4 linked regions of the Homo sapiens genome follow. Each later gene encodes a partner of the first gene's protein in a complex. Each region holds a gene or a part of one and is shown on either strand. Other genes may lie near its edges. The genes, in order: EFTUD2, DHX16, CWC22 and BUD13.

Region 1 (7,042 bases):
GCGGATCATGAGGTCAGGAGATAGAGACCATCCTGGCTAACACAGTGAAACCCCGTCTCTACTAAAAATACAAAAAATTAGCCAGGTGTGGTGGCACACACCTGTAGTCCCAGCTACTCAGCAGGCTGAGGCAGGAGAATCACTTGAATCCAGGAGGCAGAGGTTGCAGTGAGCTGAGATCGCACCACTGCACTTCAGCCTGGCTGACAGAGTGAGACTCCGTCTCGAAAAAAATAAACAAAATAAATAAACAAATAGTAGTTACTAATTACCATCACCAACTATAGTTTATAAGCAATAAATAACAGACTAGAGCATCAGGGCTCTGGAGTTGGAAGACTTAGATTCAAATCCCAACTTTGTCACCAACAACTATGTAACTTGAGGTAAGTTACTTCATCTCTTCCAACCTGATTCCTATTCTTCAACTGGAAAATGGAATGAATAATCCTCACTGAATAAATGGTTATGAGGATTAAATAAAACACCCTGTGTAAAGAATTTACCAGAGTCCAGCTGGGTGCAGTGGCTCACGCCTGTAATCCCAGCACTTTGGGAGGCTGAGGTGGGTGGATCACGAGGTCAGGAGATCGAGACCATCCTGGCTAACACGGTGAAACCCTGTCTCTACTAAAAATACAAAAAATTAGCCAAGTGTGGTGGTGGGCGCCCGTAGTCCCAGCTACTGGGGAGGCTGAGGCAGGAGAATGGTGTGAACCCAGGAGGCGGAGCTTGCAGTGAGCGGAGACAGCGCCACTGCACTCCAGCCTGGGTGACAGAGAGAGACTCCGTCTCAAAAAAAAAAAAAAAAAAAAAGAATTTACCAGAGTCCTAGGCTCAATAAACGTTAGCTAGCATTATTTTTTGCCATCCTTGATCATGAGAACCCTGTGTTCCATGCACCTGCTTCTTCTCTTCACTTCTTTTATGATACTAAATTTAATTTTAAAATAATACCAAAAAGTGGCAAGAACAGTACAAATAACTTTCTTTTCCCCAAATATTTGACAGTATGCTGCTGACACAATGCCTCTTCACCTCCTAATACTTTAGAGCAAGAGTTGACAAACTCTGACCTGTGGCCAAATCTGGCCCCTCCAACTGTTTTTGCATGGTCCTCCAGCTAAGAATGCATTTTACATTTTTATTTTTTTATTTTTTTGAGACGGAGTCCCGCTCTGTTGCCTAGGCTGGAGTGCAGTGGCACGATCTCGACTCACTGCAACCTCCGCCTCACAGGTTCAAGCGATTCTCCTGCCTCAACCTCCCAAGTAGCTGGGATTACAGGCACCCGCCATCACACTTGGCTAATTTTTGTATTTTTAGTAGAGACGGGGTTTCAACCATGTTGGCCAGGCAGTCTCGAACTCTTGACCTCAGGTGATTAGCCCACCTCGGCCTCCCAAAGTGCTGAGATTACAGGTGTGAGCCACCGCACCCGGCCACATTTTACATTTTTAAATAATTGAGAAAAAAGTACCAATGCTAACACAGCCAATAGCCAAGACAGCACCTTGCATAAGTAGGAACTGGATAAATGTTAACTGAATGGGATGTTTAATTTTAAGATGCTGATATTTCTTGGATTAGACTGATACCTCCAACTCCCTCAATGCCACCTGCTGGGTGCTGAATGTAGAGAGAGAATTGGAGCTCCAAGGACCAATAATTAAATGTAAATTATTATGGAAACTTTCACATGCATATTCTTTTTACTTCTAAAAAGCTACTATCGCATTTATGCTTATCTCATTCTCCCAAGACCCCAGTCAAGGGATTGAAGAAATTATTTATTTATTTTATATATATTTTTTGAGACAGAGTTTTGCTCTTGTTGCCCAGGCTGGAGTACAACGGCACGATCTCAGTTCACTGCAACCTCCGCCTCCTGGTTTCAAGCGATTCTCCTGCCTCAGCCTCCCGAGTAGTTGGGACTACAGGAGTGCACCACTACGCCTGGCTAATTTTTTTGTATTCTTAGTAGAGATGGGTTTTCACCATGTTGGCCAGGCTGGTCTCGAACTCCTGACCTCAGGTGATCCGCCCGCGTCTTTCTCCCAAAGTGCTGGGATTACAGGCGTGAGCCACCGCGCCCGGCCGATTGAAGAAACTGTTATAGAAAGCTGTTCATGGAACAAGCCAAGCTCATTTCTGCCTCAGGGCCACTGCACTTGCCTTTCTCTTTGTCCAAAACGCTCTCCCCTTTGATATTTTTCACCTTGTTCCTTTATTTCAATCAAGTCTCCACTAAAATGTCATCTTCTCTGTCACTCTAAAAAGTCCCCCATACATACTCTCCAACTTCCCACTTTCACTGTTTTATTGCTATTCACAAATGTTATACATTTATCACTAGCTGACTTGTATCTAGTTGTTTACTGTTCATTTCCCCAACTACAATTGAAGCAAAGACTTTGTTCACTTAGTACTGTGCCTAGCATAGACTAAGCCCTCAATAAGTATTTACTGAACTAATGAATGACTCTAACAAGGTACACAGAATATAGCTGATTTGCCCACAGTTACACAAAACTAGCGACTCATGGTAACAAACCTCACTGCCGCTTCCCGCTACAATGCAGGAGCTCAGAGGACTTCGGAGGGAACTTGGCAAAGAACGGCTGAAAGCGGCACGGATAGAAGAGGAAGTGAGCGAGGGGACTGGACAGTTAGAGCACCACTCCTACCTAGCGATACGATTTTACGGACTGAGGCTATAGAGGCAGCCCCGAAATCGAGGTGTGTGCGTGTGTGCGCGCTTCGGAAGCCTTGGGAAGGCACGAGGACGACAGGGTCTTCCATTCTTTTTCCCGCTCCAGGCCTCAATTTACCGATCCGTAAAGCGAAAGGGGCCAATAGCATATAAGGCCCCTTCCAGATCTGACGCTTTTTAATTTCCTATCCCACCTGGAGCAACCCTTCCGTGCCGCTGACCCGCTTCAACTTACCTCTCGCCTGCTCAGCTAAGAGTTCCCAGGCCGCTGCCGGAGATCGTGCTTCCGCCCCACGCCGAGGAAACGCCTGCGCCCGCCGCCAGGAAGGACCCCGCAGACGCCGCTGTCGCCTTTCTGCCCGGGAGGACAACCCTCTGCCTGAGGACCAGTTCCGAGGTATGCCCGCCGCGGACTGGCAAGGCGGAGTAGCGGGTCCCCAAGACGAGTAGCCCAAGACGTGGGCTGCTCCAAAGAGGGTGAGAGCTGAGGATGAACGAATCTGATCAGGCGCCTCGGGACCACCCTGAAAATGGGGGGAGGGGCCTTCGGGCAGATCACGTGGTCAGGCTGTTAGCGCAGTTGCTAGGCAACCACAGCTGCGGGCGTGGTCTGCGCGGGGTTGCCCTCCTGTTCTGGTTTATCAGGGGATCCCCAAAGAAAGCAAGGGGACCAAGGCCGGGACTGCTGGGGTGAAGGTCCGGGAGGCTGAGTAAGGGGACGGAAGGGTTAGTTCTATGTATTAAATGCCTGGGGAGGGCTGAGAACTGGACACCTGATTTCGGTTACTGGCCACCCCAGCCCCTTCTTGGCGTTCAGATTCCCTACGTTGGGGTAGGGTGGCTATGGGATTGGTTGGGGACTTCCTGCTTCCTTGCGCTAGGGCTGTTGGTGATGACCCCGCCACAAAATCTAGCTCAACTCACTAGGAGTTTGCAGTTCAGAGAGGTCCCACAAGTAAATGCCAGAGCCACGACTAGAACCCACGTAGAGAATCTCTCTGCAGTGGCTCACGCCTGTAATCCCAGCACTTTGGGAGGCCGAGGCGCGCGGATTACTTGAGGTCAGGATCGAAAATTGCTTGAACCCCGGAGGCAGAGGTTGCAATGAGCCAAGATCGCGCCACTGCACTCCAGCCTGGGCAACAGAGCCAGAAAAAAAAAAAAAGAAAAGAATATCTCTGTAGAAATGATCAGTCAGCCTCAGATATGCAGAAACTACAGAAGTACAGTGATAGAACTAAAGGCATTGCCCAGGTACCTAGGGACCTCTGTTCCAGCCCTGGGCTGGACAGAGGGATTTGGGGATGGGGTCATTGAGCTCCTTCCTTTGCCCCTTCTACTTGATTTCCTGCTCAGTCATTGCATCTGGTTTGGGTGAAAGTCTCCTTCCTCATTAAAGACATTCAATGAAGAATGAAACTTTATCCCCGAGCTCAAGGGTAACTAACAAGAGTTCTGCCTTTGTGTGAGGTCCCCTGTCGAAACGACTTGCTGTAGAACAATCCTATGGGGGAAGAGTGAAGAAACTGAATTCTGAGATCCCAATGCCTCCTCGACTGAAGCACCAAAATTAAAAATATTTTTAGAGGCAAAGAGCAAAATTAAGACAGAACTCCAAATTGAAAGTCAGGACTCTGTATTCTATTTTCAGGGACAAGTCTTGTGTAAGTCCTCACTGTGAAATTCAACTTGTCTTTGTAAAATAGAAAACCAGATTTTTGTAACACCTCCCAATCTGAGTGACATGATGTCCAGAGTGCTTTGGGGTCATTTTGTGTTCTGGTGAATAATTCAGAGGTACCCTCTTTCCCCTGATATTGACTGTCCACTGACATGTATTCCCTTTGCCTTCCCAGGCACAGGCCATGGAAAGGAATGACATCATCAACTTCAAGGCTTTGGAGAAAGAGCTGCAGGCTGCACTCACTGCTGATGAGAAGTACAAACGGGAGAATGCTGCCAAGTTACGGGCAGTGGAACAGAGGGTGGCTTCCTATGAGGAGTTCAGGTTGGCTCACTGCCATTTTTCTCAGGCCCTCCTGTTATGGTGGATTATAGTAGTTAACTCTGAAATCAAACCATTCTGGGCTTCAGTCCTGGCCCCACCGTCTACTGTTTGATCTTATGCAATTTCCTTAACTTCTCTGAGTCTCAATTATTTATCTGTAGAACAGTAACTGTTATAATTAAATGAGTTCTTGCACATAAGACTGAGCAAGTGTCTGACACATGTGAGGTGCTTGAAAGCAGTCAGCTATCGCTGTTGTTATTATTATGGTCATATTGGTCCGTAACAGGTTTATCCTATACCATGCAAAGTCTAGCTGCCTCACACCCACAGACACAGCATTAAGTCCATTGCCTAATTTCTGTCCTTTGCCTACAGGGGTATTGTCCTTGCATCACATCTGAAGCCACTGGAGCGGAAGGATAAGATGGGAGGAAAGAGAACTGTGCCCTGGAACTGTCACACTATTCAGGGAAGGACCTTCCAGGATGTGGCCACTGAAATCTCCCCGGTAGGTGAGGCCCTGCCCCTTTAGTCCAGCAGGATTCTCTGCCCTAAAGCTTCAATCCTGTTTTTTCATTTTGTTTTGTTTTGTTTTGTTTTTTTAACCACACATACCTCTTCTTTATTTGTCATGTTAAACCAACAGAGATAGGTTTCTGCCTCCAATCCCAGAAAGAAAAACAAACAGCAGATGGCAAAGCTGAGTTGAAGTGGGCAGAATGAGTCAGAAAGTTGGGCTAGGAAGGTCGGCTTCCCTTAGTCCTTTGACTTTCATTCTCAGATCAGAATTGGGATGCTCTGCCTCTGGGTTGTATGGTGTCTAGTGTAATGATCCTGTGGCAGTGTTGAGAGAGAGACCCCAACATTCAGATCCTTGAGTTCCTTTCTCTCTTCCTGAGATTTCCAATCAACCCATCCACCCGACTTACAGTAAACCCTGACTTACTCTTGAAGACCAGAGCTATGTCTCCATTCATGAGTAGGAAAATTCCAGTATAAATGAGAATCTCAAATCATGGCGTGGATTCCTTGGGGCCCTCCCTGTTTCATCCCCAGTTTCCTCATCTGAAAATGAGGCCGCCAAGGACCACAGCTTTCCCAGTGCTCAGACAGTAGTGAGATGAAGACAGTAAGATGAAGAGCTACAGGCTCCCCTCCCTGTCACTGTTGCAGAACAGCTGGAAGAGCTCCTGACTCCCTTTCCTTCCTTTGTGGTCCAGGAGAAAGCCCCCCTCCAGCCCGAGACGTCTGCTGACTTCTATCGTGATTGGCGACGACACTTGCCAAGTGGGCCAGAGCGCTACCAGGCTCTACTGCAGCTTGGGGGTCCAAGGCTCGGCTGCCTCTTCCAGACAGATGTGGGATTTGGACTTCTTGGGGAGCTGCTGGTGGCACTGGCTGATCACGTGGGGCCGGCTGACCGGGCAGCGGTGCTGGGGATCCTATGCAGCCTGGCGAGCACTGGGCGCTTCACCCTGAACCTAAGCCTGCTGAGCCGGGCAGAGAGAGAGAGCTGCAAGGGCTTGTTTCAGAAGCTGCAAGCCATGGGCAACCCCAGATCCGTGAAGGAGGGGCTCAGCTGGGAGGAGCAGGGTCTGGAGGAGCAGTCTGGTGGGCTCCAGGAGGAGGAGAGGCTCCTGCAGGAGCTGCTGGAGCTGTACCAGGTTGACTGATGCGGCAAGCTACCCTCAGAGGTCCCAGTGGTCACTGGAGGCAGTTTTTTGGTTGTTGTCTTGGGGGTTCTGCAGGACCATAATAAGAAACCCACACCTGGTTCCCTTCTCAACTTGGAATTTTCAGAGCAAAAACAGGAATCAAGTCTTCCCCACTTCTCCAGTCCCTCAGTGTCTCGCTGTTTTGAACTGTGTGTATCCATGGACAGTCAAGAGCTCAGGAAGTTGAGAGCGGTTTTGTTTCCCACCCTTAGAGTCTGCCAAGCCTCTAGCCCACTGGCCTTGAGAGATGAGTGTGTGCCCAACCAAATGCTGGCTATACCAGTTACAGCCTCCACTCATAAAAGGGAAAAAGCAAAATCTTTATGGTAAACAAACACTGATCTCCACAGCTCTTAACAAGAATGTTTATAGCCCCAAACCAATGAATGGACATGTAATCAACAAATGATCAAATACTACATCATTTGAGGTGTTGAATTTTCCCCTAGAGACTCAGTTCTTGTGCAGGTTGGGCCTGGGAAAGTCCCAAGCCATCAGCTCAGGTCCAGCCAGCCTCCCGGATGGCCAGATATGCAGGAGGGTGGGTTTCCTTCATCCCCCAGGTTGATGAAAGACTTTTCCACCAGGCTGGCAGGGCAGGGC
Region 2 (7,034 bases), on another chromosome or scaffold:
GGCAATCTTCATACCCTTGTTTGTATAACCCTGAATGACAAAGAAAAAAGAAGAAGTTTGCCCTTTACTAAATATGCACCCTGGGACCAGGTACATTTCAGAGAAAGAAGTTGTAAAAACCAGGCAGGAGAAAAGGAGGAAAAGACAGATGCTGAAAACCAGAAAAGAAGGGCAAATAGATAGGATGACAGACCTAGGGCCCTCAAAGGGGGTCCTCACCCAGCTCTGGGTAATTAAGTTCATGACTCTGCTAGACTTGAGCTGGAAAAGAACAGATTAGCTGAGACAGAGCCAGCTAAGGTAAAAAAGCAGGAAGGCTGGGCACAGTGGCTCATGCCTGTAATCCTAGTACTTTGGGAGGCTGAGGTGGGAGGATGGCTTGAGCTCAGGAGTTCGAGACCAGCCTGGGCAACATAGTGTGACAAAAAAATTAAAAATTCAAAATTTTGACCAGGCACAGTGGCTCACACCTGCAATTCCAGCACTTTGGGAGGCCGAGGCAGACGGATCTCCTGAGGTTGGGAGTTCGAGACCAGCCTGGCCAAAATGGTGAAACCCCGTCTACTAAAAATACAAAAAATTAGCCGAGCATGGTGGTGCATGCCTGTATTTCCAGCTACTTGGGAGGCTGAGGCAGGAGAGTCGCTTGAACCTGGGAGACAGAGGTTGCAGTAAGCCAAGATCATGCCACCGCACTCCAGCCTGGGCAACAGAGCAAGACTCTGTCTCAAAAAAAAAAAAAAAAAAATTTCAGGCCAGGCACAGTGGCTAACACCTGTAACTCCAGCACTTTGGGAGGCTGAGGTGGGCAGATCACGAGGTCAGGAGATTGAGACCATCCTGGCCAACATGGTGAAACCCCATCTCTACTAAAAATACAAAAATTAGCTGGGTGTGGTGGTACGCACCTGTAGTCCCAGCTACTTAGGAGGCTGAGGCAGGAGAATCACTTGAACCCAGGAGGTGGAGGTTGCAGTGAGTCAAGATCGCGCCACTGCACTCCAGCCTGGTGACAGAGCAAGACTCCACCTCAAAAAAAAACAAAAAATGTTTAATATGGGCATGGTGGTGTGCACCTCCCAGATACTCAGGAGGCTGAGGTGGGATGATCTCTTGAGCCCAGGAGTCCCAGGTTGCAGTGAGTCATGATGGTGCCACATCACTCCAGCTTGGGCATCAGAGCAAGAGCCTGTCTCCAAAATAAGGCAGGGGCTAGGCACAGTGGCTCACACCTGTAATCCCAGCACTTTGGGAGGCTGAGGTGGCTGGATCACTTGAGGTCAGGAGTTCGAGAGCAGCCTGGCCAACATGGTGAAACCCCATCTCTACTAAAAAATTAGCCAGGTGTGGTGGCGCATGCCTGTAATTCCAGCTACTCTGAAGGCTGACGCAGGAGAATTCCTTGAACCCAGGAGTCAGAGGTTGCAGTAAGCCAAGATCGCACCACTGCACTCCAGCCTGGGTGACAGAGCAAGACTCCGTCTCCAAAAAAAAAAAAAAAAAACTAACAAAAAGGCAGGAAAATAGTCCTTTAACTCCTTGTTTTTTGGCCACGTTGGAGCATAGGGAGGTCCACATTTATACACGCCCCACTCCACCTATCCATCTACCCGTCCTTCCAAATGAAATGAATGCAGGAAGTGAGAACAGAAATGTGAAAAGGGTATGGTCTTTACTCTCAAGAATTTCACAATTTAGTGGAAAAGATAGGTAAGTGACTACTAAAAATATAATGTAAAAGGAGCTCTGACAGGAATGAGGACATTGATGCCAGGTGCCCTGGCAAGCTGAAGGGTGAGATGACTGTACCTCCTCAAAGAGATACTGCGGGATCTGGGTGGTCTTCCCTGAGCCTGTCTCGCCTTCAATGATGAGGACTTGGTGATTTGCAATAGCAGCCAGGAGCTCCTCTCGAAATGGGAACACCGGGAGGCTGCGGCGGACGGCCTGGATGGACTCTTTCTGCTGGGCCTGAGTTGAAGTGGGTGGAGCTGACGGCTCCTAAGGAAAGAGAAGGAGGTGTGAGCTAAATAGCTCGCTACGGGTCTTCCTCAGAAAGTCTCCCAGCTCCCCTCTTACCTCATCACCCTGGAGCTGAGTGGCCCGGACAAACTCAATGGTCTCCTCCTCCTCCAGCACCAGTTGATACTTGGGCTCCTGAGAGGCAGCATCTCGGGCCCCAAACTTCAGGGACGCTGCCCCAAGCCGCGCCTCCTCCCAGCGCCGCTGCTCCTCCCCAGGGGCTCCTGATTCCTCCTCCACTAGATCCACAGCTCGGGCTGGCTACAGAGAGAGGGGATATGTGAAGACTCAAAAACAGGATGTCCTCTCTGCCCTCTCCCCTCTTCCCATTACTACCCCCGCCCACTGCCCATTGGGAACGGCAAGGCAAGAAAGGGGATGACCCACGTGTTGCCCAATCCCCTGAAGCCTTCCCCACAACTTGTCTTGGGGACCAAGGCTGAAGCAGACGCCGCTTCACCTCACCTGTCCTCGGGTTTCCTTGGGCATGTGGTAGCGATTGGTGGCCTCCAGCTTCTCCTGCTCCCCAGCTGCCCGGTACTCCCGGGCGAGATCCCGCACTCGCCGCTTATATTTGAGCTCCTGCCGCTCGTGCCGGCTCAGCTCCACGTCCCCAAAAAGGAACTCCTCATCAGCCAGCTCCGCCTCCAGGTCCTCAAGCTTCTCTCGCTCCCGCTTAGCCAGGTACTCTCGGCGAGATTTCTTCCGCAGCTCAGGGACCTGAGTTGGGAAAGGACAGTCGAATCCTCATCTTGCTGGAGGAGCAACCCCTTTCTCTACCAATCCCTACAAGGGAAAAATCCCCTGACAGGCAGGCATGAGAACCTCAGGATGCACCCTCTACCTTCCCTCTGCAATGCACAACCAAAACAATGACATACTCAAATCTGGGCCTCTTTGGATGCTACATGCTGACCCCACATCGTATCTTCCTGCAGCAGAATCCAGCTGGAAAGTCCTCTTAGGCAGCATTATCATCTTTGTTAATATAGATGCACTAGGGAGATGTCTGCGTAGCTTATATTTTACTCTTGCCATTTTATTCAAATTAGTGGAAAGGGGGAAAATAAAAGGCTAATCCAGCATTTAGAAGCACAGGACTCAAACCGAAAACAATTCAGACAAAGATAGAAACCAGTGAGGGGGCCAACAGGAGGCAATCTTCAGCCCCAGTTAGATGTTCTTTGGTCTTAAACGGAATGACTGTAGTTTGAGGAAGGGAGAAAAACTGATTATAAAAAGTTAGGACTACAGCATCAGAGTGTTTCTGTAAGGCAAATGTAATCAGGGATGTTTGGCTTTCTGGTACTAACCTCTCTTCACCATGCTGTGTCTCACTTAGTTTCTACACATTTACCTTTGATACAAACTTTTCAGGACACATTATGGATGACAGCAGAAAACTGGCAATATCTATAAGGCCCTTTCCTGCCAGGAGTCCTCCCACTATGACATCATCCTCTCTGTGATCACAACTTCCTCTACTGCAAGGTCAAAGCCCCTCTGGTGGCTGGGTGGGCGTGGTGACTCACACCTGTAATCCCAGCACTTTGAAAGGCTGAGGTGGGTGGATCACCTAAGGTCAGGAGTTAGAGACCAGCCTGGCCAACATGGTGAAATCCCGTCTCTACTGAAAATACAAAAATTAGCTGGGCATGGTAGTGGGCACCTGTAATCCCAGCTACTCGGGAGGCTGAGGCAGGAGAATCATTTGAACCCGGGAGACGGAGGTTGCAGTGAGCTTAGCTCACGCCATTGCACTCCAGCCTGAGCAACAAGAACAAAACTGCATCTTTAAAAAAAAAGCCCCTCTGCTGTTCTACCCTTAAGGGGCCTGGTTCTATTTAGTTGTTTGGCTTTTCTTGTTTGTTCTGTAAAGACTTAAAATGCAGTTTATGATCATGACCTAATCTGGGTACCACAGTCAAATATTCCTTCCATGGAAGAGCCAGATAGATTTTTTTTTTAATATGGGCAAAAAATCAGAGCCATTTGAGCATTAAAAAGAATAATGATGTGAGATTATAAAATACTGAAAAATAAAAATTCATGAGTCCAATTTGACACACACAAACAAAAAACAAGGGAAAAAAATCTGTCACCAGTGAAATGACTGTTACAGCAAACGCCTTACTCTAAAAATTCGTATTTAAAAGGAAACAAACATTTACCCTTTTTAAGAAGGAACTGTAGCTTGTTCCTAGTTGTTGAGGAAAAGCTCTTCTTTATAGACAAATTCTAGCCAATACACGTAACAGGAATGACAGAATCAAAAAATCACCATTTCGGCCGGGCGCGGTGGCTCACGCCTGTAATCCCAGCACTTTGGGAGGCTGAGGCAAGAGGATCACGAAGTCAGGAGATCGAGACCATCCTGGCTAACATGGTGAGACCCCATCTCTACTAAAAATACAAAAAATTAGCCGGGCGTGGCAGCAGGCGCCTGTAGTTCTAGCTGCTCAGGAGGCTGAGGCAGGAGAATGGCATGAACCCGGAAGGCAGAGCTTGCAGTGAGCCGAGATCGCACCGTTGCACTCCAGCCTGGGCGACAGAGCGAGACTCTGTCTCAAAAAAAAAAAAAAAAAATCACCATTTTGCAATCCCCAATAAAAATAACATGTTCAGGAAAGGATTACCAGTGGCTTCTAAAAGCATTTGATGAAAGGCTATTGGTAGAAAGGATATTAATACTAATATATAGATACACAACTGGATAGTATGTCCCCGTGATATGACATAATATGAAGTGCACATCACCGCCCAAGAAGTGTTCCTGCCACAACTGTTTAATCTGAGTGTCAATAAGCTTTAGACCCAATTCCTGCTTCAAAGAAAGCACAGGGCAGAGAAGTACTTAACACCACAAGATAAGAATCAGGCAAATCCAGAATGTAGGACACTGCAAGGTGAGACAGACAGAGAGAGAAACAAACTTAACATCTAAGACCCAAATGCAATGCATGAACCTTGACTGCATTCTTGTTAGGAAAAAGCAGTCATTAAAGTTATTTTGAGGGTAATGAGGGTATCTTTTATTGTAGAGAGATCTTAGTCGATACATAAGAATTACTGTTCAACTTCCTGACTGTGACAAGAGCATTCTGATTTTAGAGGACAATATCTTTATCCTTAGCAGGTACACACTGATGTACTTAGAGATAAAACGCCATGATGTCTAAGACTCTTTTAAATGGTCTGAAAAGAAAAAACATACCACATTTACAATTACAATGCAAATACTACCCATAGTATTAACCATTTTTCAATCTGAATAGTGTCTATGAGTGTTCTTTGTTCTATTCTTTCAACTTCCCTATGTGCTTAAATATTTTTGTAATCGAAAAAGAAAAATTACAGCTGGGCACAGTGGCTCACGCCTGTAATCTTAACATTTTGGGAGACCGAGGGGGGTGGATCGCCAAAGGTCAGGAGTTTGAGATCAGACTGGCCAACATGGTGAAACCCTATCTCTACTAAACATACAAAAATCAGCCAGGCATGCTAGTGCATGTCTGTAGTCCCAGCTGCTCGGGAGGTTGAGGCAGGAGAATCACTTGAACCCGGGAGGCGGAGGTTGCAGTGAGCCGAGATCATGCCACTGCACTCCAGCCTGGGCGACAGAATGAGATTCTGTCTCAAAAAAAACCCGAAAAATTAAATTCAGGCCAAAACAGTAACACCACTACCACCACAACTGCACTGAGATGTCCCAGAAGCCTAACCACAGTCAATTTCAGGAAGAGATATGAGATAAATTGGTCAGGAGAGACCTGGGAACCAGTAGGCCATTCTTAGAACTCCAAAAGTTGGCCGGGCACGTGGTGACTCACGCCTATAATCCCAGCACTTTGGGAGGCCGAGGCAGGTGGATCACCTGAGGTCAGGAGTTCAAGACCAGCCTGACCAACATGGAGAAACCCCATCTCTACTAAAAATACAAAATTAGCCAGGCGAGGTGGCTCATGCCTGTAATCCCAGCTACTCTGGAGGCTGAGGCAGGAGAATCGCTTGAACTCGGGAGGTGGAAGTTGCAGTGAGCCAAGATCACGCCACTGCACTTCAGCCTGAGCAACAAGTGCAAAACTCTGTTTCAAAAAAATAAATAAATGAATTTTAAAAAGTAAAAACGGCCAGGCGTAGTGGCTCATGCCTATAATCCCAACACTTTGGGAGGCCAAGGCGGGCAGATCACAAGGTCAAGAGATCAAGACCATCCTGGCCAACATGATGAAATCTCCTCTACTAAAAATACAAAAAATTAGCCGAGTGTGGTACTGCAGGCCTGTAGTCCCAGCTACTCAGGAGGCTGAGGCAGGAGAATCGCTTGATTCCTCCACCAGGGAGGCACAGGTTGTAGTGAGCTGAGATCGCACCACCACACTCCAGCCTGGCAACAGAGTGAGACTCCATCTCAAAAATAAATAAATAAAAATAAAAAATAAAACAAAACAAATAAAAAGAAGGCTGGGCATGGTGGCTCACGCCTGTAATTCCAGCTCTCTGGGAGGCCAAAGCAGGTGGATCACAAGGTCAGGGGTTCGAGACCACCCTGGCCAACATGGTGAAACCCCGTCTCTACTAAAGGTACAAAAAATTAGCCAGGCGTGGTGGTGTGCGCCTGTAATCCCAGCTACTCAGGAGGCGGAGGTTGCAGTGAGCCGAGATCGCATCATTGCACTCCAGCCTCGGTGACAGGGCAAGACCCCGTTTCAAAAAAAAGAAAAAAGGTTTAAAAAAAAAAAAAAAAAAAAAAAGGAACTTCAAGAGTCTCAAAATTCTATTGGGGTATTGGGGAATCTAAGTGTGACTTTACTTGACAAGACCAGGCCTTTGGAAAACAGCTTACCCTACCTAGTTTCACACCATAAAAAGTCCAGTTTATGAATTACAAGGGCTCTGTCCCTGTCCAGTGAGAAGACACAGGGAGATCACAAAGCCACATAAGGGGTGCAGGAATTAGGTGGTGGGAAGGTATTTGGAGATGGTGTGCCTAAGCTGAATGGTCAGCACAT
Region 3 (3,956 bases), on another chromosome or scaffold:
GCATATTTCACAACTATATGTTTTCCAATGATCTATTAACCTAAACTAAAAATTAAATACACATTAATTCATCAACAGTGATATAACTTCAAGGCTGAGAAAAATGCACTAATCACAAAGAATTTCAATTAAATGATATCAAGGAGTCCAGAGAGAAGAAATATTTCCTGTGGGAGAAGTTCTAATTATAAATAACTGCGTATTGGTTTAAAGAGTAACATACACCTAGCTTTACCAACACTTGTGAAAAAAATTACACATTACATACTTTGTTCAAAGCCTAATATGAAAATTGTAACAAATCCTCTACTGAAAAAAAAAAAAGTGACTACCTGAAAAAGATTCATAACATCTCATTAACAAAGCAAAACTGTTAAACTGAAAAGGTTCACCTGTTTTGGTCTTCAGTTACAAACAAAAAAGCACTGATAATTCACTATAACAGCTTCTTAAACAACTAAAAAAATATTTTGTCAATTGAAAAAACATCACTGAATCAATGAGCTTTTGATCATTTTATTCACAAAATATAAGCGAGACTTACATCCCTTTCTGGTGAAAGTTTTCAAATAATTTTATGGGTAGGGCCTTGAGATGTATCAATTATAAAACATGTTAAAATGAAAACATTTTTTAAATTTACAAATACAAACCAATACTTTATACAAGAATTCTCTATAAAGTTCGTCAAAGTAAAAAATAATTTGTTTCAACTGAATATAAGGCATGTCCAGTTTATGTCATTTTGTAGAATTATTTTTGTTTTGCTGGAGACTTTTCTCTTCGCCGGTCCTGATTTTTCTTTGATTCTCTGGATTGTTCAGAGTATCTGCTAGATTTTTCCCATCGTCTCTCGGCACCATTTTGATATCTATCTTCATCACTTCTTGAGCCTGAGTGCTTTCTATTCATTTCCTTTGACTTTGATCTATCTTTTCTTCTGAAATTTTCACTGTCTTTAATTCGGTGTGTATGCTTCTCATTTTCAGAAAAAGAATTTCTTCTCTCTCCTCTCTTCTTTTTGGGATCACCATGCTTATTTTCCAAATCTATATGCATTTCTTGGTCTCTGTCATTCGCAACTCTACTGTAGTTATTTCGTTCAGAAGGAACATCTTTGTCTGATGTGTACTTTGTTATAGGATCTCTCCAATTTGAACCACTTGAATTTTGATCTCTGTGTTTTTCTGACCTTCTTTCTCTCTCAGTCCTTGTTTCCTGGTGCCCGTGTTCTTGTCTTCTTTCTTTTTGTTTCCTATCATTTGTTTGCTGGTTTCTGATCAATTTATCTACCTCTTTACTTCTGGTCTTCCCATGTCCCTTCTTTCTTACATCATTAGCTGCGTGTGTAAAATAAAAGACAGTTAGCTTTTATTTCAATCTTAATTTCATAATTATAACAATCACATTTACTGATACAGTGTAGGTTTACTAACTCAGATAAACTAGGTGCAAAGCCAAATTGATTGAATAGAAAGTCTGATGACACAGAGTCTTACCAAATGCTTAATTTTATTTTATTTTTTGAGACAGTTTTGCTCTTGTTGCCCAGGCTGGAGTGCAGTGGCGCAATCTCGGCTCACTGCAACCTCCGCCTCCTGGGTTCAAGTGATTCTCCTGCCTCAGCCTCCCGAATAGATGAGATTACAGGCGTCTGCCACCATGTCTGGCTAATTTTCGTATTTTTAGTAGAGACAGGGTTTCTCCCTGTTGGTCAGGCTGGTCTCGAACTCCTGACCTCAGGTGATCTGCCTGCCTCGGCCTTTTAAGAATATACAATATTTCAGGCCAGGTACAGTGGCTCATGCCTATAATCCCAGCACTTTGGGAAGCAGAGGGGGTGGGGGACAGATTGCTTGCGCCCAGAAGTTGGAGACCAGCCTGGGTAACGTAGCGAAACCCCTTCTCTACAAAAAATTCAAAAAATTAGCCAGCTGTGGTGGCGTCAGCCTGTAGTCACAGCTACTCAGGAGCCTGAGGTGGGAGGATCAATTGAGCCTGGGAGGCAGAGGTTGCAGTACGCCAAGAATGCACCGCTACACCCCAGCCTGGGTAACAAAGTGGGACTCTGTCCAAAAAAAAAAAAAAAGGGGGGGGGGGAAGGGGAGGGGAGGGAGGAAGGGGAATATATAATATCTCAACATTAGTTACCAAAGTACTGTTTTGATCTCGAGATTTAAGACAGTAAACAGAAATTTTATAGCAAATGTAAAAATTTTAGAAAGCGACTCAAATGGTACATTTCTACTTAACAAATTGAATCCAAAAGCTGAAATTCCAGCCCATAGAGTGTTATTCATAGGACTATTAAGTCAGATCAAAATACAATGATCACCCAAACTAGCATTCACTTCCTAAACATAGGAGGAGTAGAACAACTGGGTTTGCTTAACAGCATGAACATATATTTCTCAATGAAAGGTCTCTTCCTGCAAAAACAATAGTTCTCCCCTCTGTTACTATCAGAGAGGCACTAACTGCACCAACAAGAGCAGATATGTTAAGATTTACACTCATGGGCTTTATTAGAGCCACAAAGGCTTAGTTTCTGTAGAAACTCTTCTGAAAAGACCTCAAACAATTTGATTTTGCTGATGTAATCACAACTATAAATACAAAATGGTTATACTGAAATAACCACTTTAAGCAATAAAACAAACTTAATCAGTTTATCTGTTATTTAATTTGGGTGCACAAATCAAAGATGCTAAGATAACAAAAATTTCTCTCAAATTCATACATAGGCAAGAAAGAGAAAATATGATAGAAAAGTGCCTCTTGTCACCCTAATTCTACCTAAATCTCACTGTACCAGCCTCTATTTCTTCCGCTAAATGCATATCTTTGGCACATGGTACAGTCAGTTGGTTTGCCACTAAGGACCTATTTCTCTGGTTCCTATCAAACAGCTCAGCTGAGCTGCAGCTACCCAAGCAGAAACCATCTGGCTCTGTGCTAAACCAGCGTCCCCTTGATCCTACTGTACACCACTGTCGGGCTTTACTGATATTAAAACCCAGCCATGTAACAAGAGGCAATCTCTTCTCCGTTTGCTATGTTTGCATTATAATTTCCTAATTTTGGGGCAGTTCATGCTGCTTTTATGCTATTTAGTATTTTATTAATAAAACAAAGTTCTCTACTGAAATTATATGAGAAGGCAAATTAATTTTGAATCAGCAAGCTTCCTTATTGCAGCAATTCATGCTGTGTTATCATCTGTTCTCAAAATGGATACCATGAAATAACAAATTCTGTAGAATATAAAAATGGTGAATGTTAAATGAACAATGTTTGTACACTTCAATTCATGAATAAAAGTTCCTGTAAGCAAACAATCTTTCTCTGATAATTAAAAAAACAGCCCCACAATTCTGGATGTCACACAGTATGTAAAACACTTTGAAACATAACAAGCTATGGAACAAAGGTGTAAAGATTGGCCTTTCAATTTAAGGCTACAGAGGAAAGTATTGATGCCATATTTGATGAAATATTGCATCCAAACAAAACAAAATGAGAAATGACATGCATGTAGGATAAGCAGACAATCCCTTATTTGGACCAAGATACTGTAATGAAAGAAAGCAGAGCTGACCTTGGGTAAAACAACACAGATCTTTTCAGAAACTGTGAACCAGATCAAACTTTGAAAACATCTTTTACTATAGCATTTCCACTTCCAGGTAGGATAGAGAAGACTGTGGCAAACCTGTGCTCCTGCTGAAAATAACTAGAAATGCCAGATACAATTTTAAAATGTTGCATTGAAAAATGTTGAAAAGCACACAGAAATCAAGTTGAAGGAACTCCTAATTGCCAAAGCTAAGATGATTTGAGCAAAATAAATGACAGTATTGGACTTTAACCCACAGGATAAGATAAATAACCGTGAGTCTATATTGATATTTACAGTTGACTAAATAAATAAATGAGGGAAGAGGGACAATACTTTC
Region 4 (7,034 bases), on another chromosome or scaffold:
ATCCCAGCACTTTGGGAAATCGAGGCAGACAATCATATGAGCCCAAGAATTCAAGACCAGCCTGGTCAATGTGGCAAAACCTCGTCTCTACTAAAAATGCAAAAATTAGCTGGATATGGTGACACATGCCTGTAATCCCAGCTACTCAGGCCACTGAAGCATGAGAATTGCTTGAACCCGGGAAGTGGAGATTGCACCACTGCACTCCAGCCTGAGCAACAGAGCAAGACTCTGCCTCAAAAAAAAATAAGAGTGGTTGGGCATGGTGGCTCACCTGTAATCCTGTAATCCTGTAAGCCTGTAATACCAGCACTTTGGGAGGCTGAAGTGGGCGGGTCACCTGAGGTCAGGAGTTTGAGACCAGCCTGGCAACATGGTGAAACTCCGTCTCTATTAAAGATACAAAAAATTAGCTGGGTGTGGCAGCGGGCGCCGGTAATCCCAGCTACTCGGGAGGCTAGGGCAGGAGAATCGCTTGAACCCAGGAGGCAGAGGTTGCAGTGAGCCGAGACTGCGCCACTGCACTCCAGCCTGGGCGACAGGGCGAGGCTCCATCTCAAAAAAAAAAAGACTGTAAAAGGGTCCTGAGATTAAAAAGTTTAAGAATTATTGTGCTAGATACTAAAACAATGTCCTTTAGTAGGCAAGAGGAGATGGGATCTAATATGTGAGTATACAAACTGACTTTGGATGGAAGCAAATATTCATCCATCATAACAGGAAGTTAGAGTACGTGGGTACAGATGTTGGTAGGTAGACAGATGAGGTGGGGTAGAGGACTGGAAGACATTAAAAGTGACTGCCTCCTAAAACCATAAAGTGAATAAAGATTCAGAGGCTACATTTTAAAGATATATCAGGTAGAAGGCTCCAGACTACAACTCATCACTCAACCCCTCTAAACCTTACAAAATATCATTAAAAGTAACCAATGTCCAAAACAAAGGGTGTCTTATCTGAACCACCTGAGGTGTTTGTCCAGAGCTTTAAAAAGTATTATGAAAAGGAAACAGAAGGAGGAGTGTTCCAAGCATGAGAAATAGGATTTGTGGACCTCAGAAAAAGAAGCAAGCAAAGTGCATATTTTTCACCTTGTGATTAAAGCAGAGAATGAAATAAAGTGTGGAGCAACTTACGAGTGGTTAGGGAAGGTTACAGTCAGGTAGAAAATGTAAGAAATACCCAGGCTTACCTGTCCACTCCGTCCCAGCGATATCCAGGCCAGATATTAAATCTGTTGGGAGGAGGTGCTGGACCACTGTAGCGAGGTCTCACTAATGAGAGGAGTAAGAAAAAAGTATTCAGTTAATGACATAGTTTAATTCAGAGCTGGATGGCAATGTGGAATTTTCCTTTTTTTTTAGTAGAGTCTCACTCTGTTGCCCAGGCTGGAGTACAGTGGCACGATCTCAGCTCACTGCAACCTCTGCCTCCTGGGTTCAAGCAATTCTCGTGCCTTAGCCTCCCAACTAGCCGGGATTACAGGCGTGCACCACCATGACCGGCTATTTTTTTTTTTTTTTTGTATTTTTAGTAGAGATGGGGTTTCACCATGTTGGCCAGGCTGGTCTCGAACTCTAAGGTGATCCACCCACCTCGGCCTCCCGAAGTGCTAGGATTACAAACATGAGCCACTGCGCCTGGCCTGGAAAAATTTTTATATAGAAAGACCAATTGAGTTGAATCTAAACTCACAAATACAATGAATTTAAATTATTTGGGAAATCCTTCTTTGCATATAGCTATGTATCAGCATCCTAATGATTCTCTCTTCACAAGTCACCTCCAGCTGATGATTCCCAGAAGTCCCACCTTTTTTATTCTTGTTCTCCTTGGCCTTATTCTTCTTGATGAAGTTGGCCATAGGGTCCCCCTCTCTTTCCTGTTCTCTTAGCATCCTATCCAGATCTTCGTCATCAATATAGCGGGCCAGAGGCTTTTGCATCTCTTTCATTGCATCCTCCACATTTTGTTGCTGTTGCCGGCTCTGGGCAAGCCTGGGCAAAAAGGAACCAAGAGTGTTTGCTATCCTGTATGACATTTCCACTTCTACACGAGATGGACCATACTGCTAAGTTTGGACAATCTCCTCTTTCTAGTACCCTAGGGCAAATACTGAGCAGGGTAAAATTCCCAGAATACCCACTAGAAGCGTGGAATATATCAATATCCTAGGAAGAAGATTCAGCACACCAAATTTCCCATTACTGATAACAGCTCTGAAGGCATAATAAGAAAGTGAGTGATCAGAAGAGCAGAGAAATGACTTGTTCCAGTCACTGCCATCTTGTTTACCCTTTCAGTGGTTCCCTTACCCTTTTCCCCACTGGGCATACAGCTCATCTCTCTCTGAGTCCTTTTCTGCTTTCCTCCTTTGCTCTAAACGTTCGAGTTTCAAATTCCTCTTACGACCAGACTTATCTCGAAATACGGTTTCAGCATATTGAAATTCAGCTGCAAAGGAAAATTATACTCAAATATCAGGATCAAAATCAGAAATAACATTCTAAGAGATCAAATCAACCGCTTGGGATTCTAATGCTAGATAAGAACTTCTGCAGCCAGACCAAAGTAGTTCCTACCAACATCTTGGTGCATATTGGCACTGGGCCCAAGAAATGGCATTTTCCTTTTTTTTTTTTTTTTTTTTTTGAGATGGAGTCTCACTCTGTTGCCCAGGTTGGAGTGCAGTGGCGCGATCTTGGCTCACTGCAACCTCCACCTCCCAGGTTCAAGCGATTCTCCTGTCTCAGCCTCCTGAGTAGCTGGGATTACAGGCATGCAACACCATGCCTGGCTAGTTTTTTTTTGTATTTTTGGTAGAGACAGGGTTTCATCATGTTAGCCAGGCTGGTCTTGAACTACAGACCTCAGCTGATCCACCCGCCTCGGCCTACCAAAGTGCTGGGATTACAAGCATGAGCCACCGCGCCTGGGCGAAATGGCATTTTTCAAGAAGGAAAGAAGCACTGGGATTCACTGAGAAATTACAACAATGCATAAAACCAGAGCTGAAATTTGATAGCAATTAAAAGTTCAAAATATCAGGTACAATAAGCTAAATTAAAAAAAAAAAAACAGTATGAGCCTAAATTGGTCTCTGCACTTTCATATTTTTACCTTCAAATGCCATGGTTTCTTGATCCTGTTCCTTGAGCTCCTGCTGTTCTCGCTGTATGTCAGTTAACACCAACCCAGTTTTAGCCCCAGAATACATGTGTGCAGCCTATGCAACGGAAAAGGGAGCATCCAACATTAATGAGATGATGTGACAGTAGGCTCCATGGGTACACAGTTAGTTGCATTTGTGTCTAATGACCAGCAATAATTAAACCTAAAACTCTAGCTTTATATTCTCAATAATTACCATAGGATTCAAAAACTATAAAAGAAAACCATCATCAAAACCATCAAGTTTAAGAATAAGCAGAAACACTAACAATATATTAAATGGAGGGCTACGCATTTGTATTTCTGACTTTTCAGTATATAAACTGCACACATGAAGACTATCTCAGGTCATCTGATCAGAAACCAGTATAAAGCACTAAGCCTTCCATTAGAGACCCATACTGATAAAATATTCCATTTACAGTACAAACTCAAGCAAACCTAAGATCCTTAAATTGTGGATATATTTCATGGTAATAACAGAAGATCTAACAAATGAAAACTTTTTGCTAATTTCCACTTAGCATCAAGATAGCAAATCAGCCCACGAATGAAGCACACAGTATATCTTGATATCCTTCAGCAACGAAATTGGAATAATATTAAGTTGTCCATGAACTAAATGGATATATAAAATGCCAAGAGGTCCAGCTGAAACAGAGACCTCTTTTTTCCCTAAAAAAGAAGAATCTCACTTCCTGGGTAAAGAACAGGCTGGTCTACCCTGCCAGGACCAGTCTTCTCAGAGTCTTCTACAGACAAGATTTACCTGATAAGTCTGCACTGGGGAGAAAAATGCACATCACAGGCTCTATCATTCTGTTTCTTAACCACTTACAAATAAGATTCCTTTACTACTACCAATGTTCTTTACAATATAATTACTCAAGGTTCATATGGATTTTGGGGTTTTTTGGCTAATTCATCAAGCCTTATCATGAATTTAAAACAAACCATTGACTTCTCAGACAACATGATTTCTAAAAGTGGTTTCATATTTTAAGTGCCTCTCCTTAAGCTCTGGATACAGAGACCTATAGTCCAATTTATACTAGTAAATCACTAACACTAGATGCTTACTTTGTCCCAGACACTGTGCTAAGAGTTTTACTTACACTGGCTTAATTATCATAACAACCTTACACAGTAGGTACTACTATTATCCACAATTTACAGATAAAGAAACTGAGGTTTAGAGATATTAAGCATCTTGCCCAAATCTCACAGACAGTAAGTGGCAGAAGGAGAATTTCTGTATGTGATCCGTTTGACACAATGCTTGTGCTCCAAACTTCACTCTGCAAATTACAGTCCTCGGTTTATTCCTAAGAAAATAGGAAGTTTTTCTAGACCTGTTAAAATGAGATTGTAGAATTAAGAGGCTATAAACGCAGAAGCTACTTGGGAAATCTGGTATCTGTAAGTCCATCTGGGATGGGTTATAGCCAGTTTGCCTTCAGAAGGAAAGACCTCCAAAGGTCCTTTTAACTAAGATTTACTACACTTCTCAGAGCTACATCCTTCTTCTTGGCTTGATTCTCTGGGACATATATAAAGCTGAGAGAGAAGAGTCACACGAAAAGAAGGACATGGCTCCTGAAAATCCTGACCTTCTTTCCAGGAGGCTGACTCCTTCGAGGCGGGGACAGGTCAGAATCAGAAGATTTGGTCCTCTGTCTCCTCCTTGGTGGAGAGAGGTCAGAATCAGAGCTCCGGTGTCTAGGTCTATTCCGTGGAGGTGACAGATCTGAATCAGAATCCTGGTGCCCTGGACTTTGTTTATGCCGTGGAGAAGAAAGGTCTGAATCAGTTGCTTTCTGGCAGTCACCTGGATAGGAGCAAAGAATCTGTGTGACTCTGATGTCCTCTAGGTGAAGAACTTACATGAAATCTCCTATGGCTGGGAGAAGAACCTAGAAATTAAAGAATTCCTTACATTATTATTATTTTTTTTTTTTTGAGACAGTCTCAGGCTGGAGTGCAGTGGCATGATCTCAGCTCACTGCAACCTCCGCCTCCTGGGTTCAAGCAATTATTGTGCCTCAGCCTCCCAAGTAGCTGGAATTACAGGTGTGTGCCACCACGCCCAGCTAATTTTTGTGTTTTTAGTAGAGATGGGGTTTCGCTATGTTGGCCAGGCTGGTCTTGAACTCCTGACCTGAGGTGATCTGCCCACCTCGGCCTCCAAAGTGCTGGGATTATAGGCTTGAGCCACCATGCCTGGCCAAAGAGTTCTTTAATCCCCTTGGAAGAATCTAAAAAGATAACTTACCAAGCTAATGTACAATATTTATTTAGTTTTCCTATGAAGAATTATCATTAACCTAAACATAAGTATGGATGGCACAGGAGAAGAGCAAAGTCAGAAACAACTTTTAAGACCAACAGGTAGAATATGGCATTCTATTCCCAAGTGACCACTGACTGTAACTGGTGTGTAAAATCTCCACACACTCCTCTATGTCAGTAACCCCACCCATGGAAAGACAAAATAACTTGTAGTCAGCTCTCCATAGTGTGGCAAAAGTCAGAAATACCTGGAATATAGTCTGATATCCTTGGACTAAAGGATAACAAAGTACTTTAATTTTAAAATTAAAATAGTTCCTAGGAACAAAAGAGGGAGTAAAAAATTTCACTGCACAGGCCTAAGTTCTAGCGACTGTATAAGCATCACAAGTCACCTCCCAAAGGGCATTCTGCAATATGTATCGACAGTCTTTAAAACGCCCACATCTTCTGACCCAGTACATCAACTTCTCAGCTTTCTAGGAAACTTATATAGAAGTAGTTGAATTTCGAGGAAATCTATCTAGAAGTAGATAAGGAAATAATCCAAAATGGGGACAACAGTTTATGTACAAGGATGTTCATTATAGAATTACAGAAGAAAAAACTTAGAAATAACCAAAAACATTCATTATTAGGAAAATGGTTAAATTTGTAATTAAACACTATTAAAAATTATACTAACATAAAGATGTTTTATGGCCTGAGGAAGACTACGTTAAGAAAGGACAGCAGGCAAGATTGCACATGCAATACAAATGTTCTACACAGCCAGAGCTCAACTATATAAAAAATGCAAACCAAAAAAGACTAAGATGACCCTGGCCACAACACTAACAATAATTGCCTCTGAATGACAGAATTTTGTGTCACATTTTATCTTTATATACTTCTGTACATTCCAAAGCTTCTGCAACAAATAAATTGTACTTTTATATGGGGTGGAGCGAGCACATAAAAAGACATATGAAAACCTTCCTCCCTGCCACCATAATTGTTCAACTCTCCCAAACCCAGCCTCTCACTTTTCAAAACTTTCCCAAAGAAATTCCATTCTTATACCTAATAAATCAACTAAACGGCCAAAAGAAAGCTCCCAGGGATACATACATCCCTCTCATGGACAGTCATATGCTCACCTTTGGAATCAAGCTGCTTCTTGTCTCCAAAATGGGATTTTGCTTGCTTTTTTCGTGGAGGAGAGATGTCAGGGTCATACTCATATTTGCTGTTCTTTGGGAATGACAAATGGGAGGCTCCTGACTCCTTCCAATGTGGAGAAGTCTTGCTAGAGGCTCTTTCTGGGGCTTTACCACTTTTGGTTCTGGGCAGGGAATAAGTGACATTAGGAGCCAAATCAGGGGAGTCATGACGGGCCCTTCTGAGTTGCTGTGTGTCTGAAGAGCCAAGAGTCCTCCTAGATGTGTCAGGGGAGTTGTTATGGACCCTTCTGGGGGAAGAGATATCTGAGGAACCATGACGGGCTCGCCTAGGAGGAGAGGGATCTGGTGAATCATGACGGACTCTCCTAGGAGATGCACCTGAAGAATTATGCTGAGGCCTCCTTGGGGGAG

What was found.
Region 2: EFTUD2 (region 1) and DHX16 share a complex: the UniProt entries of both Homo sapiens proteins name them as parts of the minor spliceosome.
Region 3: EFTUD2 (region 1) and CWC22 share a complex: the UniProt entries of both Homo sapiens proteins name them as parts of the minor spliceosome.
Region 4: EFTUD2 (region 1) and BUD13 share a complex: the UniProt entries of both Homo sapiens proteins name them as parts of the minor spliceosome.

The regions. Positions count from the first base shown.
Region 1 is NC_000017.11:44,896,421-44,903,462, forward strand, and holds the start of EFTUD2 (116 kDa U5 small nuclear ribonucleoprotein component), read right to left. Parts: upstream 3,026-7,042; 5' UTR 2,949-3,025; exon of another isoform or gene 2,555-2,948; intron 1-2,554. Other genes in the region: DNAAF19 (dynein axonemal assembly factor 19), read left to right, coding at 4,579-4,721, 5,100-5,232, 5,945-6,397. UniProt on the Homo sapiens protein: Required for pre-mRNA splicing as component of the spliceosome, including pre-catalytic, catalytic and post-catalytic spliceosomal complexes. Component of the U5 snRNP and the U4/U6-U5 tri-snRNP complex, a building block of the spliceosome.
Region 2 is NC_000006.12:30,662,992-30,670,025, forward strand, and holds part of DHX16 (pre-mRNA-splicing factor ATP-dependent RNA helicase DHX16), read right to left. Parts: intron 4,337-7,034; exon of another isoform or gene 4,194-4,336; intron 3,823-4,193; exon of another isoform or gene 2,904-3,822; intron 2,743-2,903; coding exon 2,488-2,742; intron 2,284-2,487; coding exon 2,080-2,283; intron 2,002-2,079; coding exon 1,810-2,001; intron 31-1,809; coding exon 1-30. UniProt on the Homo sapiens protein: Required for pre-mRNA splicing as a component of the spliceosome. Contributes to pre-mRNA splicing after spliceosome formation and prior to the first transesterification reaction.
Region 3 is NC_000002.12:179,944,376-179,948,331, forward strand, and holds the end of CWC22 (pre-mRNA-splicing factor CWC22 homolog), read right to left. Parts: intron 1,341-3,956; coding exon 754-1,340; 3' UTR 501-753; downstream 1-500. UniProt on the Homo sapiens protein: Required for pre-mRNA splicing as component of the spliceosome. As a component of the minor spliceosome, involved in the splicing of U12-type introns in pre-mRNAs. Promotes exon-junction complex (EJC) assembly.
Region 4 is NC_000011.10:116,755,954-116,762,987, forward strand, and holds part of BUD13 (BUD13 homolog), read right to left. Parts: coding exon 6,600-7,034; intron 5,000-6,599; coding exon 4,782-4,999; intron 3,227-4,781; coding exon 3,121-3,226; intron 2,455-3,120; coding exon 2,316-2,454; intron 1,998-2,315; coding exon 1,813-1,997; intron 1,275-1,812; coding exon 1,193-1,274; intron 1-1,192. UniProt on the Homo sapiens protein: Involved in pre-mRNA splicing as component of the activated spliceosome. As a component of the minor spliceosome, involved in the splicing of U12-type introns in pre-mRNAs.